Linked DNA regions of Homo sapiens. The protein of the gene in region 1 purifies or fractionates together with the protein of each later gene. This does not show direct contact. Each region holds a gene or a part of one and is shown on either strand. Other genes may lie near its edges.

Region 1 (7,734 bases):
TGCTGACTCAGGAACAAGCGTTCTGCCTGTCTGAGTCATGGAATTTTGGACCTGCATTTTGCACAGACTGATTATTTAGCTGAACCATTGATTTCCAAGTATGAGCTCTTCTGAAATGCTATGATGAGGGATGCTTGCTTTGATTAACTTGTGTTTCCCTGACACCCCTGGGTTCAGATGAGAACTGAACAGTGAGGCTGATTATGAAGCTCCAAGCTTCTGTCCTTTCTTTATACTGAAATTTACCTTCATATAAACAAAAAGTGCCTCAGGAAAAACTCATAGCAGCTTCTGTATTTGAGCACTTTTCCTGGATGCTCCTAATTTTCATTTAGTAAAGGTAAATACTTGATTATTGGGCGACCAAACACTGGATGAGGAGGGAAAATGTTGCACAATCATTACGTATTTTGTAAGGTTTTCTATTCTGCATAAGTCTACCCATATTAAACCTTCCGACCCAGGGAGAGGGATTTGTCTTATTTGCTAATTTTGAGAGGCTTCAAACATATGTTTCCTTTAGACTGAATAATATTGTTAACAATAGCTTATTGAAAGTATGCCGGGTAGCCAATCTCAATCTAGGCACTTCGCATGCGTTCTTTCGTTTAATCCTCAGGCCACCCTTGAGGTTAGGTTAATTTTTTTTTTTTTGAGACGGAGTCTCGCTGTCTCCCAGGCTGGAGTGCAATGGCGCCATCTTGGCTCACTGCAACCTCCGCCTCCCAGGTTCAAGCTGTTCTCCTGCCTCAGCCTCCTAAGTAGCTGGGACTACAGGTGCGTGCCACCATATTCAGCTAATTTTTTGTATTTTTAGTAGAGACGGGGTTTCACCATGTTAGCCAGGATGGTCTCGATCTCCTGATCTCATGATCCGCCTGTCTTGGCCTCCCAAAGTGCTAGGATTACAGGCGTGAGCCACTGCGCCGGCCGAGGTAGGTTAATTTTTATTATGCTCATTTTACTGATGGGGAATTTCCCCCAAGGTCACAGAGCTAGGAAGTGGTGCAGTGTGTCTGCAGAGCCCACATTCTTAGCACAGAACAACACTGCAATGGAGCTGGGCAGTAGTAGACAAGTGGGACAAAAATACGGCATGGCTTCTTGACTATCGGCCATGTCACCTGAAACCCACACTGAGCCCTCACATCCATCATCTATGGAAGTTGTAGGTGTTAACGACTCCCATGTTAAAATCACATAAACATAGACATAGGCGCTCATACTCTATCCCTCATGTGGTGGATGGAGAGGAGCCAACACAGACAGGGACTCAAAGCTAGGCTCTGCCCTCTGACCCTGGACACGTTCCTTCGCCTGTCAGTCGCACTGGCAGCTCTTTCTTGCATGCTGCCCTGAGGACCAGAGGAGGCTGGTGCCACAGTGCCCCGCTAACGCCAGAGCAATAGCTTGTAAAACACCGGTATCTTTCCCTCCTCTCTCCTTCCTTAGTGCAAAGGAGGGCAGCGACTTGAATGCGGTAGGCCGCCCTCTGGGCCCTCTCCTGTCTGGGTTGCAGCTGGCGTTTCGTGTCTTGGCAGTAACACTGGCGTCAGGACTGTCACCGGATGGCCTGTTTTTCAGAAGGCTACCCCCATACAACCGAGTGGACACGAGTTTTCAAAAATATTTATTTGCTTATCTGCAAGGCAGGAGAGGAGGGAACAAAGTGATCGAGGACAAAATCAATTACTATTTTTCATCTTTGACAAAGTAATTAAGGCCGTAGTGACTGGCTAATTCAGACCGAATGGCTGCGCGGTGATGGATGCGGATTTACGGCCTCCTTGGCTGCGGCGCGCTGGGCCTGATTATCACTATAAACAGGCGTCCGCGGAGGGCGGGGGCGGAGGCCCGCGTCTAGAGGACGTGCGGCTGGTCTTCTTCTTCTTCTTCTTCTTTTTTTTTGTTTTTGTTTTTTAATACTGCGGTTCCATCCTCTGCGCTTCGTAGGCGCTGACACACACCCATACGCACGACCTGCTGCCCCAGGGCCTGGCTTCCTGCCTCCGCATGCTCTCTCCCGCCCCTGAAGCCCAACCTTCAAGCCCTGCTGATGCCCGCCCCTCCGTCCCAGCGTTGGCCTCATAGCGAACCCTCTTAGGCCTCTCCGTTCCAGACCCTCCCTCCATTCTCCACGTAGCCCCTCCCTTCTAGAATCTTGCGGCTGAAAGTGGGGGCAGGCGGGGAGCCCGAATAGCGCCTCAGCCAAACCCCGCAGCCGTTCCTGCGCGTCACCCGCCTCTGCAGAGCCTGACGCGCGGCAGTCTCCACGCCGGAACCCAAGTGCTCACTGGGCCGGGGAGGGCCAGCGGGCGAAATATCAGGCCTGGGGGCTGAGCGGGGGCGCTGGGCGTCACTCAGGCCCAGGGCCGCAGCTGGGGGAAGTGAGAAGGCCGGCAGGATTCTGCCCACTCTGCGCAGTTCTCCCTTCCTCCCGGGGCAGCCAAGTCTGTGCGCCCTGGAACGTCCGGGCGCCGCGTAGACTCTCCATTCGCACCTGGCCCTTTGCGGGGGCTGCTCAAATGCAAATTGGGAAACTGGCCAGAACCTTCCAAAGTCGTGACTGTCCCTCGGGGAAGTCGGCCGGGGAACCGCAGAGGGAGGCCTACACCGATCTTTGGGCCCGCCTCGTGGTACCGCTCCGGCCGATCGCTCTCTGAGCCCGAGCCTGCCTGCCAGGCCTGCCTTCTACAGTTCTCGCATTCGTCTTGAGCCCTCTCGGAAACTGGGGACTGTTTAGGCAGAAACACTCGTAGGTCCCCTTGGCGTCCCCCAAGATGCCAAGAGCCTGCGGGGTGCTTCTCAGCGCCAGCCGGAACTTGAGCAGGCACCCCTGCGGAATTCTCAGTCCCACCCACTCAGACGACCCTCCTCCAGCCAGAGTCCACCACAGCCCACCCTACCCTCTTAACCCTCGTTCCCGACCTCTCCCTACGAGCGGGCCCCGGGGAGAGAGCGACTGACCCTAGCGACAGCCCGGCGGGAGGTGGTTGGGATCTTCTCCAGGGTTCAAAAGCGACTTTCTGAGCCCCAATTTCCTCAGCTTTGCAATTGGTATAGTTTCTGAAAGGCCATTGCTAAATCTAACCGAGATAATTCATGGATATCCCTTGCACAATGGTTGAGTATTGAGATCTCAATAGACGTTAGCTCAAAACTGCAATAAAAAGCGACCTGAAATCCTCAAGGCGTCTCAAAAGAAAGATCTCCTCCTCCTGCCCCCACCAAAGGCAATGCAGACCGTGTGTCCCCAGCCAGCTGCCCTTTAGAGGGGCTAGGCGGGAAAGCCAACCAGCGGAGGCATCCAAACACTCTCGGGCTCTCCAGAGGAGCAGGAGGGTGCCCCTTAGTGCCCCCGGCGCCCGCCGCAATCTGCCACTGCAGCCTACGCCTGCGGCCGCGGCCGCCGCGGCATTGTCCTCCCGCCGCGTGGGACGGCCCAGCCGCTGGCGACGGCGCGCACCCCGAGGCAGTGGGCTGGGCTGTTGGCAGTAGGGAAGGGAAAACGTGCTGTCTGTGGCTCCTCATCCCCGAGGCCAGGGGTTCCCCGAGCTAGACCGGCAAGGAAGGAGAGAAGGGAAGCATTTTGCTGATAATCCCCTTCTAGTCTCCAAACTACACCTTCTTTGTAAAGGCGTTTTTTCCTCTTCTGATTATAGCTATTGCATTGTACACACAACAAGAAAGTCCATCTTTTTATCGCCATGGCCACCCCCACTCCCATCCCCGCCACAGTACGGTTGAACATCCTGGCATGGCTTTGCAGATTGCCAGCTCTCATTCCCCCTCCCCCGCATTGCTGGGCATCCCGATTTGGACGGTCTCTAAGGTCCCGCGCTGCCAAATCAGGCCTGGCTCTTGTAGGATTTTATTGAAAGGACTGTAAAGAAAGAATGGGTTTCCCTTGACTTTGAAAGTGACCTAAGAACTAGGTCTGTGTTGGAAAAACTTCGTTTTTCTTTCTCTAAAACGTCTTCAGAAAAGCTTAAAAATACAATGAAAAAGGTCAGTTATACTCAGAATTTTCTCTTGATTGTGATAACAGAAATAGGAACGGAAATACCAGATCACAATTTTTAAGCAAAAACCCCAGGATTCCTCCAAGACTGACTGTCTGGAAGGGTAGGGATGTGAGAATCTGAAGTCCACATACATGCTAGGTAGGTACACCTTGATAAATGCAGGACCCATGCCTGCTTCAGTCATCGCAGAGCTGTGGGGCTATGCGCAGACCCTCAACCTCTTTCGGAGTAATATTTTCGGAATCCCTGAAGATAAGGGGGGACAGCAATGGAATCTAGTGAAAGGGAAAGAATAGACAGTGATTTAACCCCCTCCTTCCTCCTCTACAGCCCGATCCACTCTGTTGGCGGCTGCGCCTTGCCTTGGGTGCAGTGGGACGTGTCCCTCCCATGTTTCCCTTAATTAGGAGGAGGCAAACTTCTGTCTTCCCCTCCTGCCGGTTTCGGTTTAGTAATCAGACCACATGAGTCACGCCAAACACGCAGCCCCCTCCCGCTGGAGTGACAACTGGCCAGCATACTCTAGGCTGTTGTCCCTTTAAAACTTGAATCCAAGGGGGTAATGATTTATCAAACTTGTATTATCAAGAAAATGTCAAACCAAGGGCACCTTGCTTTGCACTGACGCAAACCCGGCCTTTCCCAAGGAGATATAGAAAGCGCCTCTCCTGCCTGAGCCAAACCCAGTCTTGTCAATAGCGGGTTTCACCCTCCACCAGTTCAGTCTGTTGCCTGTGTCAGACATGGTGAGTGTTTGCTTTTGTTCTTTCAAGAGGAAAGGGGGCTGAGGGGACAGGGAAAGCAGATTCGTTTTGGCTATTTCTTTTGGAGATGTCTGTGCATTGGGTGGGGGGAAAGGGGGCGACGAGGAGAACAATTCTCGCAGCCCTAGGTATTTGTACTTGTGAGCGTCACCTGAGGTCGCAAAGAGGTTTCCTAGGCTGTAGAGCTGAGAGGTTGGCTGTGGCTCCTAAAGACCCGATCCCGGGCACTGTCCTCGGTGCTGAAAAGCCAGATGCCGGTACAGAGGCGAGTTGCTCTGGGTCCTAGAGGCTACTGAGACAAATGCTGGCTGAAGCCGAGGTACCTAGATTTGTGCAAATCGAGGAGTTCTATTCTGCGTGTTTGTGAAAGGGGGTTAGACGAGAGGAGTGCGGTGGAGGCGAAGATAATAGGATTATTCTTACAGTGTAATAATAATTATTGGTGCTAATGTTTAGGAAGCCGTGAAAGATAACACGAGGGGAGAAAGTGGATAGAAAAACCACCGCTGGCAGTTCTTTTCATTTGAAAGTGAATTGGGAAAAAGCGAATAAAAATTAGTCATGAGTTTTGGTACTCAAGCAAGCTTAGAGTTGTGAAGGATATTAGACTCCTGTGAATAGTTACGCAAAAAAGAAGAAGAGGAAGAAGAAGAAGAAGAAGAAGAAGAAGAAGAAGAAGAAGAAGAAGAAGAAGAAGAAGAAGAAGAAGAAGAAGAAGACCTAAACAAAAGAACAAAAAGCTTTGCATATTCTTTTCCATGTCTGGGAATCTGGAAGTGAATACGAGTTGTGTAAGATAACAAATCTAGTTACTACTCTGTGTCTTAAATTTAGTTTATTATCGTTGTAGGTTTTTTTGTGGTTATTTTGATCGTGATTCTTAACCTTGTCTTTGCTACCTGGCGGGAGGAGGTGGGTTGTGGAGCGCTGGGACTCAACCAATTTGGCCTCAAGCGCTCGCAGGTGCCAGGGCATCAGCTTTGTGGCCACAGCTTGTCTATGGGGGAAAAAGGCAGTGTGCATTGTTGAATGACAAAGGAAATGGGGCGGAAAATTAAAGAATCTTTCTACAGTGGTGATGGGGATGCGGGCACCCACAGCTGTGATGTGGAATCCAAAGAGGGAGGGGAGCTCATGACTCCAGGGCTATTTCCATTCCCCCTTTACCCTTACAAAATTACATTTCTACCTCTTTTCTTAGTTCATCCTCCACTAGGGAGGGAATATTAGCTTCTTTTTGTCATCTGGTTATTGATGAAACGGGCAAATTGAGAAATACTGATTGCAGCCTTTCTTTTAAAAAAAGTTCAGATTCCAATTTGCTTCCCCAGATATTGTGTCTGGACCTGAGTTGCGAACGTCTCCATATCTAGATACAGGTATTTTAAAAGCTGTTGTGACTTTGTTTTGCACGAACTTGACATTGTGTTTGCAGGATTGCAGTGCTCCCAAGGAAATGAATAAACTGCCAGCCAACAGCCCGGAGGCGGCGGCGGCGCAGGGCCACCCGGATGGCCCATGCGCTCCCAGGACGAGCCCGGAGCAGGAGCTTCCCGCGGCTGCCGCCCCGCCGCCGCCACGTGTGCCCAGGTCCGCTTCCACCGGCGCCCAAACTTTCCAGTCAGCGGACGCGCGAGCCTGCGAGGCTGAGCGGCCAGGAGTGGGGTCTTGCAAACTCAGTAGCCCGCGGGCGCAGGCGGCCTCTGCAGCTCTGCGGGACTTGAGAGAGGCGCAAGGCGCGCAGGCCTCGCCCCCTCCCGGGAGCTCCGGGCCCGGCAACGCGCTGCACTGTAAGATCCCTTTTCTGCGAGGCCCGGAGGGGGATGCGAACGTGAGTGTGGGCAAGGGCACCCTGGAGCGGAACAATACCCCTGTTGTGGGCTGGGTGAACATGAGCCAGAGCACCGTGGTGCTGGCCACGGATGGAATCACGTCCGTGCTCCCGGGCAGCGTGGCCACCGTTGCCACCCAGGTAAGCAGGTTGCATTACGGCCCGCACAGTGTCCTGCTCTCCAGCTGCGCGAGAGAGGCCAGCCGGGCCGTGGCGGGTGCACGTATGCTGATGGGGAAACCGGTTGGCAGTGCCAGGTGATGGATGCGGGAGGCGGCTTTGGGGCTTCGGAAGCTCGCACTGCGCTGGGGTCGGCAGTTCAGGGCGCGAGGGCTGCAGTGACCCTGCCAGAGGGGCCACGACCTGCCCCTTCCCAGCCTTGGCGGTAGCGGGAATACAGGTCCAGATCCACGAAAGAGTTGAGGAAGATAGATTCCACCCTTTTATGCAGACAGACTCCCTCTCCTGCCAATGACTGTCTTTTCTTTTCAAAAATAATTTCTTAATTAAACAAAAAGAGGGTTAAAATTCAGAACAAAGCCACGTGGTGGTGGCTGGGGATGGAGGGGTAGGAGGATAATAGTTTAAGTTTTGTAGCCTTTACACTGCCAGTTACCTTTATTACATGAGAACTCATTTGATGCGAGGTGGGTTTACCTGAGGCTACTGAAGCTTTAGTTTTGGGGCCTGTCCTTTGCCTGGGTCCTTCCAAAACCTGGTGTCTACTTTTGCCATAATTTTCTATTTTTTTCCCTAAAGTAACCTCCCTCAATTGTATAAGCTTCAAGCCCCACCAATCTTAATCCCCTCTTGCATTTGATCCTTTACTACTTAATTAGAGGCGTGAAAAACCCACAGAGCAAATCCCAATCCTTGGGTTATGAATAAAGGCAGCTTTTGCTGGTGGCCCACTCTCTCATATAGGCTTTTGTTCTCTTCAATTTCCCTCTCGTCTCTCTCCTTCCTTCTCTGATCTCTTCTTTCTTCTGTCCTTTTTCATCAACTTCAGCTCTTCCCTTCTCACTGCCTGCCTTTCTGCTATTTCCTCTCCTTTCCTGGCCTCAGGGGCTATGCATATATCCAGCAGTGGGGCCTGGACCAAAATTTGTGCCTG
Region 2 (7,000 bases), on another chromosome or scaffold:
GTGCTCTGTGCAGTATCTGGAACATACGTGCTCAGTAAACAATAGCTATTGTAATTATTTACAATTCTTTCATTTTGTTAGACCTAACACTTATTATACATTGCATAAATTTTGAGAAGGGTAAGAAAATGGGTCAATGTCATTAATGATGCTGATATATTAAATAAAACAAGTATTTTTCATAATCTCACCAAAAAGACATGAACAGATATGAGTAAGTTTAGCATCTACCCAATTTCTAAGTTTGCAGGACTGAATTCTTTGGAATTCAAATTCACAGATTAAAAAAAAAATCCTACTTTAATGAATAACAATAAACCCAGAAATAATAGCAGCTATTATTTAACTGAGGGTCTATTACATGTCAGAAACAATGCTAGGCTCTTCATATATTATCCTTTATTGTCAAGAGAACCTTTGTTTACCTGCATTCTATAGATGAGAAAATTAAAGCTCCGCAAGATGAAGTGCCTTGTGGAAGCAGCATCTGTTAAGTACCAAAGACAGAATCTATCCACGTCTGTCTGCTATTCAAGTCTATGCTCTAGACAAGGTATCCTATTCTCACAACTTTCACGCTTTCTTTTGTAGTTCACAAGTCTCACAATGTGCAGAGTTAATGCATGGATGAACATTCTCTACAAAAAGTTTCTTCCTTTTAAGAAAAGGAAGCTCGTTATGCTGCACTTTATCTTCTCTCACCTTCAGAGACTCCTTCCTACGATATTTATGTCAAAGACCCCGAAGTTTAAGCAAAATAAATGGCCCAACTTTACTTTTAAATATAGTAATTATACATAAACTATAAATTATAAGAATAAGGATAAAACTGTAATTAGAAGATCATCCCTGAGCCCATACTAATATTAGAAAACATCTCAGCTTCACATAGGAGCTCAAATCTGATTTGCTTTTAACCACTAGAATGTAAGATCTATAATTATGAAGACCCTGTTCTAATTCCAAACCTAGGCACATGGCAGGCACTTGGTAACTATTTGTTGAATGAATTGATCTGTTTTTTATCACCATAACTTTATGGTCAACTTATGGATTAGAAACCTGGTCGGGCATGGTGGCTCACGTCTCTAATCTCAGCACTTTGGGAGGCCGAGGTGGGCGGATCACTTGAGGTCAGGAGTTCAAGACCAGCCTGGGCAACATGGTGAAACCCCATCTCTACTAAGAATACAAAAATTAGCCAGGTGTGGTGGCGCACGTCTGTAATCCCAGCTACTCAAGAGGCTGAGGCAGGAGAATCCCTGGAACCTGGCAGGTGGAGTGGAGGTTGCAGTGAGCCGAGATCACGCCACTGCACTCCAGCCTGGGCAACAGACCGAGACTCCATCTCAAAAAAAAGAAGGAAAGAAAGGAAAGAAAGGAAGGAAAGAAAGGAGAGAAAGGAAAGAAAGGAAAGAAAGAAAGAAAGAAACCTACTGCTTTAGCCCAGCACGGGCTGCAACAGCCCTGCAATCCCAGCACTCTGGGAGGCTGAGGAGGGACAATCACTTGAGGCCAGGAGTTTGGGACCAGCTTGGACAACACAGGGATACCCTGTCTCTACAAAATATAAAAATTAGCTGGGCGTGATGGCATGTGCCTGTAGTTCCACCTACTTGGGAGCCTGAGGCGGGAAGACTGCTTGAGCCCAGGAGTTCGAGGCTGCAGTGAGCTATGATCACACCACTCCAGGCTGGGAGACAGAGCAAGATCCTGACTCCAAAAGAAGAGAAGAGGAAGAGGAGGAGGAAGAGAAGAGAAGCGAAGCGAAGCGAAGAGAAGCGAGAAACCTATCGCTTTAGTAATGCTGTTTCCCCACCTCTCAAACTGTTAACACCTGAGGGTAAATGGTGTCTACTAAGCTGAACCACCATGAATCTTACCTGTAATTCGGATCTGAGCTGATGTATCTGGCCCATCAGCTTCTGTATTTCCTCCCTCTGCATCTCTTTCTCATGCCGAAGTTCTTCCAGCTCCATGCTACTGGCAGTGCTGCTATCTAGGCCTTCAAAACCAGAGCCTTCTTTCAAGCTGTTAATCAATTTTTCCTTAGACTATTATAAAAGAAGAAATATGTTTAAGCAAAGCAGAGATTAGTTTGTATATTGAATATCATCTACTATACAGAAAATAACCCACTAAAAAAAATTCCATTATCTCCATCAAAGAAAGTCCACAGATTTTCTTAAATCCCTAAGGATAAAAAACACAACAGAGCCTTGCTGTATAATGTCCTTGGACTTTAGCCCCACAATCATGGTAAAGTTGAAAGCTTGTTATGAATAAGATTTTTTTTTTCCAGCTGGGTGCGGTGGCTCACGCCTGTAATCCCAGCACTTTGGGAGGCTGAGGCGGGCGGATCACGAGGTCAGGAGGTCGAGACCATCCTGGCTAATATGGTGAAACCCCGTCTCTACTAAAAATACAAAAAAAATTAGCCAGGCATGGTGGCAGGTGCCTGTAGTCCCAGCTACTAGGGAGGCTGAGGCAGAAGAATGGCGTGAACCCGGGAGGCGGAGCTTGCAGTGAGCCGAGATCGCGCCACCGCACTCCAGCCTGGGTGACAGAGCCAGACTCCGTCTAAAAAAAAAAAAAAAAAAAAAAAGATTAAAAAAAATTTGTGTTTATTTATTTGAGATACGGTCTTGCTATGTTGCCCAGGCCGGTCTTGAACTCCTGGCCTCCAGGAATTCTCCTGCCTCAGCCTCCCAAAGTGCTGGGATTGCAGGAGTGAGCCATCACACCTGGCCAAACAAGACTTTTCTCACATTTTCTTCTCATAGTTTTTATTTTCCAACACATTCTACCCAACAAGTAAATGGTGCTAAGTGTTCTGCGCAATAAAGATAATGTCTCTCTCTATAGATAGTACCCTCTGCCTTACAAACTAAAAGAGAAGTTACAAGTATCCAGCAGAAGGCAATCAACACAAGTAGAGAAAAGGATATGGTCAGATTACTTGCAGAGTTCTGAGAGGAAAAACCACTTCTGGGTAAGAGGAGACTTTAAGAGAGCATAAATGTTGGCCTTGAAATATGGGTAGACTTTTTTAAAGTGCAGAGAAAAACAGAGAGCAAAGCATAAAAATGCAAAAGCACACAAAGTCTGTAAGAAAATAATGTGAGATGCAGCTCAGATAGTATTTTAGCACCAATTTGGAGGGGCTCCTGATCTCAGGCTAAAATGTTTTAATATTATATGGCAGGCTAAAACAAATTACCAAAAAGTAGAGAGAGGAGTGACATGACTAGAGATGCATTTTAGGAGGCTAACCTGGCAGTGCTATGAAGAAGGTGCTCACAAATGATGGTCCGTGGGCCTGTTTTTGTACAGCCTGCAAGCTAAATTTTTTTTTTACATTTTAAAAGGATCATAAATAATAAAGACAAAGAATATGTGATGGAGACTACAGGTAGCCAACATAGCCTACAATATTTACTATTTGACCCTCTCAATGTTTTCTGACCCCTGAGATAAAAGATGAGTTTGAAGAAGAGATTTGACATGCAAAGACCAGTTTATAAAGTCCTAATTCTAGACTAGGAACAACAAGGACCAGCAGCTTTCACGTTAAATTAAAATATTTTAAAGTCATTCTCCTCCATCAAAAATAATTTTTCCTTTTCTGGGTGGTAGGATTATGGGTTATTTCCATTTCCTTCTTCAAACTTCTTTTGTATTCTTCAAATTTTCTATAATAAACATGATCATTTATAACATTTTAAGATTTTTTTTAATAAAAAACCAGAAACCTCCCAACCTCATTCCCCCATCTAGCTACTGTCCTCATGTCCATGGTCAAGTACCCTGCCTCCATGTCTTCAGCTCCCAGCGCACCCCGGAACTCTCTGTTGAGAGGTCCCCAGGGACCTCCTAGTTGCCAAGTCCAGGAATTTAGCTCGGGACTTGTCACATCAGAGCCGCGTGCTGTGGTTGGTGATCATGCACCACTTGAAACTCTCCCTCTGCTTGGCTTCATTGGATGGCATCAGTCTCCTCCTGGTTCTCTCCAATCTCTGACCACTCACCTTCTCAGTATTTTTCTTTTGCAGGCTATCCTTTTGCCCAATTTGTAAATGCTGATGTTTAAGACTGTGTTTTTAGACCTCAGCCTTTCTCCCCGTTAGGTTACACATCGCTCTTGCCTAAACTTACCTACTCTCCCAACTTACTTCTAATTACCTTTCTAACATTGTCACCTCAATGTTGCATCAATTTTGCATACTTACCATAATTCGTCATACTCTCCTTTAACCCTAACCTGTTCTCTTTCCTGTTTCCCCTTTTATTAACACAAGGAAACATCATTCATACACTTAAACCAAAAACCTGGAGTCATCCTGGATTCCATTTGCCTTTTTCCCCCATCCTTCCAGTTAAATCTCCACATGTCATATATTCTATCTCCCACATATCTCTTAGCTGTCCCCTGCCTGCCATCCTCACTGCCAAAAACTTTGATCAGGTCCTCATTATTTCTTATGATCACCTCTTCACCATCTACATGCCATTGATGCCACCCCTTATCACTTCCATGTTTTCAACAATGTACCGAATACCAGGCACTGTGCTGGGGATACAACGATGAACAAGACAGAGGCCCAAATCTCCCCTAACCTTTTCATCAGGCTGCCACAGTTCTCACACTCAAACCTGACCATGGCTTCTGCCTGCCGTTGAACTTTATGAGTCTTTTGCCTCCCATCTCTGAAGACGTTATGTTCCAGCAGTATGGAACTAGCTGCAGTCCCTTAAATATGCCATGTTCTCTCTGGCCCCCTTGCTCTGGCACAGGTTGTTCTCTCGGAAATCTCTTCCCTATCATGAGTCTTCCTATTCATCTTTCAAGTTTCTCTTTATACCACATCTCCTCAGTCCAGTGATCTTTGACAGCCTCAGGCAAGTTTTAAGGGATTCTTCTCTCAAGCTCCCATTGTACTGCATTAATAACCTTATTACGTCAATTATCTGTTTCTTTCCACTAAGATGAATGTTTTCTTAAAGGAAGAGGACACATCTTTTGAGCTTTGTATCCTCTGTGCCTAGTGAGTAGTTAGGTGCTCAATAAGTAACTTTTCAATGAATTAACAAATTAGGGTGATACAAAAAAGTACTTAGAAAGAAGAGTTTGAGGAGGAGATCAATATGATACTTCATGGAAGTAGCATTAAAAAAAGGTATTCATAGCCATTAGAAGTTTGAGACTAAAGAAAAAAGGTAAAGTCAAAAATGACCCTGAGGTTTCAAGCTTTACTGCCACATGGCAGTAACGTTGACCAGAACAGAAGAATGAGGGAGAAGTTGGTCTGGGAGCTGAACACTCCATGCCTGCACAGTAGGCAGCTGGGCACTGAGGTCAGGAGGTCAGGCTTGGAAACATGCTTGAAGTCATATGCAGGCGGCTATTAGAAGCAGAGGCAGCATACAGCAGTGCAAGGTAAGAAAGGACAATGAAAGAGGGTTCAGGACAGAGCTTAGGAGGACTCTGACTCTTTGGAGATTGGGAAGAGCGCCCAAGAGAGACAGAAACAGCAGTAGAAGAGGACAAAAAGAGAGCCAAGGAGATGTGAATAGCATAGAAGGCAGGAGTTCCAAGGAAGTGGGAGGGTTAACAGAGCCAAATGTTCTACCAAAATACAAGGTATGGAGACTAAGAAAAGGACAGAGAATATTTATTTAGGTCATCAAATATTTTTGAGAAGAAATTTCAGACATGTAGTAGGAAAAGAAGGAGATAAGAGTTAACAAGTTCTACAGAAATGAAGACAGCACGTACACAATTCTGGTAAGCATGACACTGAAAGAAAGGAAGATAGGGAAATAGTGCAAAGTGGTCACAAAGCTAAAAGAGACTGTTTTTCTCTTAGGCAGGAGTCCGAGATCTAGTCTTCATTTTTCCACTAAATAACCATGTGCTCTTGAGTAAGCTGAGCCAGAAGGCAGCAGCAGCAGAGAGGCACACACAGGAAGGAAGGGCATAGATCTATGGAGAAAGGGCTTACACATGAGATGGGAGATGGAATCAATGCACAGGCAGGAAAATGATCCTAGAAAAAAATGAAAGGACATGTTTTCCCTCTGAGGGACAAAGGAAAGAGAATTCAAAAACGACATTAGATGACTGTAGTCTTTCTTAGTAAAGTAGAGGGTAAGATCACCTTAGATCTGAAGGAGGGGAAAAAAAGCTGGGTGAGACAATTCTGAGAACTGGATGAGTCCTAAAGCAGTTGCTGCAAAAATTCAATAGGAGATCAACAAGGAAGAATAAACAGCTGCTCAACAACAAGCATTAATATCATCACAGTGAGTAAGGTGACAGGTTGAAGACCTGAACTAGGCAGTGGCAGAATGAATTTTTTTTTTAAAAGAAGTGGTAGGAACAAGAAACACTGCATCCTTTAATAAAATTTCTAAAGTAGAGTAAGGCACCTAAAGCTAGCCAATCAGACGAACATGAACAAAGCACCTCACACAGTATCTACACAGTCTCAAATTGCCTTTCAGTTAACTTGCACATCTTAACATCCAAAAGTGTACATTTCATGCTTACTTGCAGTATTCTAGTAGCTTTTTGCTTGTAGTCAATTAATTCCTGCTTAGAGGACTCCAAGTTCAACTTATACAGCTTGACTTGCTGCTGCAGTTCATCAACCCTCTTCTTCTCATCTGAGTATTTTCTTTCGGCCAGTGTAATTGCTTCTGCTAAATTCTGACGTTCCATTTCCACTTTATTAAGGCGTGCAGCAAACTCGCTCTGTGACAAATTTTTATATCATAATTAATGATATCATTTAGCTTTGAAACATATTTTACAACCATCCATTCGGATATCTTATGGGATTTATTAGCTCAGCCAAACAACATAGTAGGGATGGGAAAAAATTCTTAATTTGTTAGGAGCTAAAGTATAGGAAATGTAAAGTTGTAACTCCCAAACATGGCAATGCATTAAAATCAACCAGGAAGTTTGTTAAAAATATAGCCATCCAAGGCCTTTCCC

The links. Proteins that work in one complex are often made in the same cells at the same time.
Region 2: the proteins of SLC6A5 (region 1) and GOLGA5 purify together in Homo sapiens (affinity purification with mass spectrometry; 2 studies listed by BioGRID and IntAct, with this or other methods). This does not show direct contact.

Annotation. Positions count from the first base shown.
Region 1 is NC_000011.10:20,594,905-20,602,638, forward strand, and holds the start of SLC6A5 (sodium- and chloride-dependent glycine transporter 2), read left to right. Parts: upstream 1-4,703; 5' UTR 4,704-4,768; coding exon 4,769-4,771; intron 4,772-6,224; coding exon 6,225-6,761; intron 6,762-7,734.
Region 2 is NC_000014.9:92,811,305-92,818,304, reverse strand, and holds part of GOLGA5 (golgin subfamily A member 5), read right to left. Parts: intron 6,755-7,000; coding exon 6,551-6,754; intron 2,055-6,550; coding exon 1,884-2,054; intron 1-1,883. UniProt on the Homo sapiens protein: Involved in maintaining Golgi structure. Stimulates the formation of Golgi stacks and ribbons. Involved in intra-Golgi retrograde transport.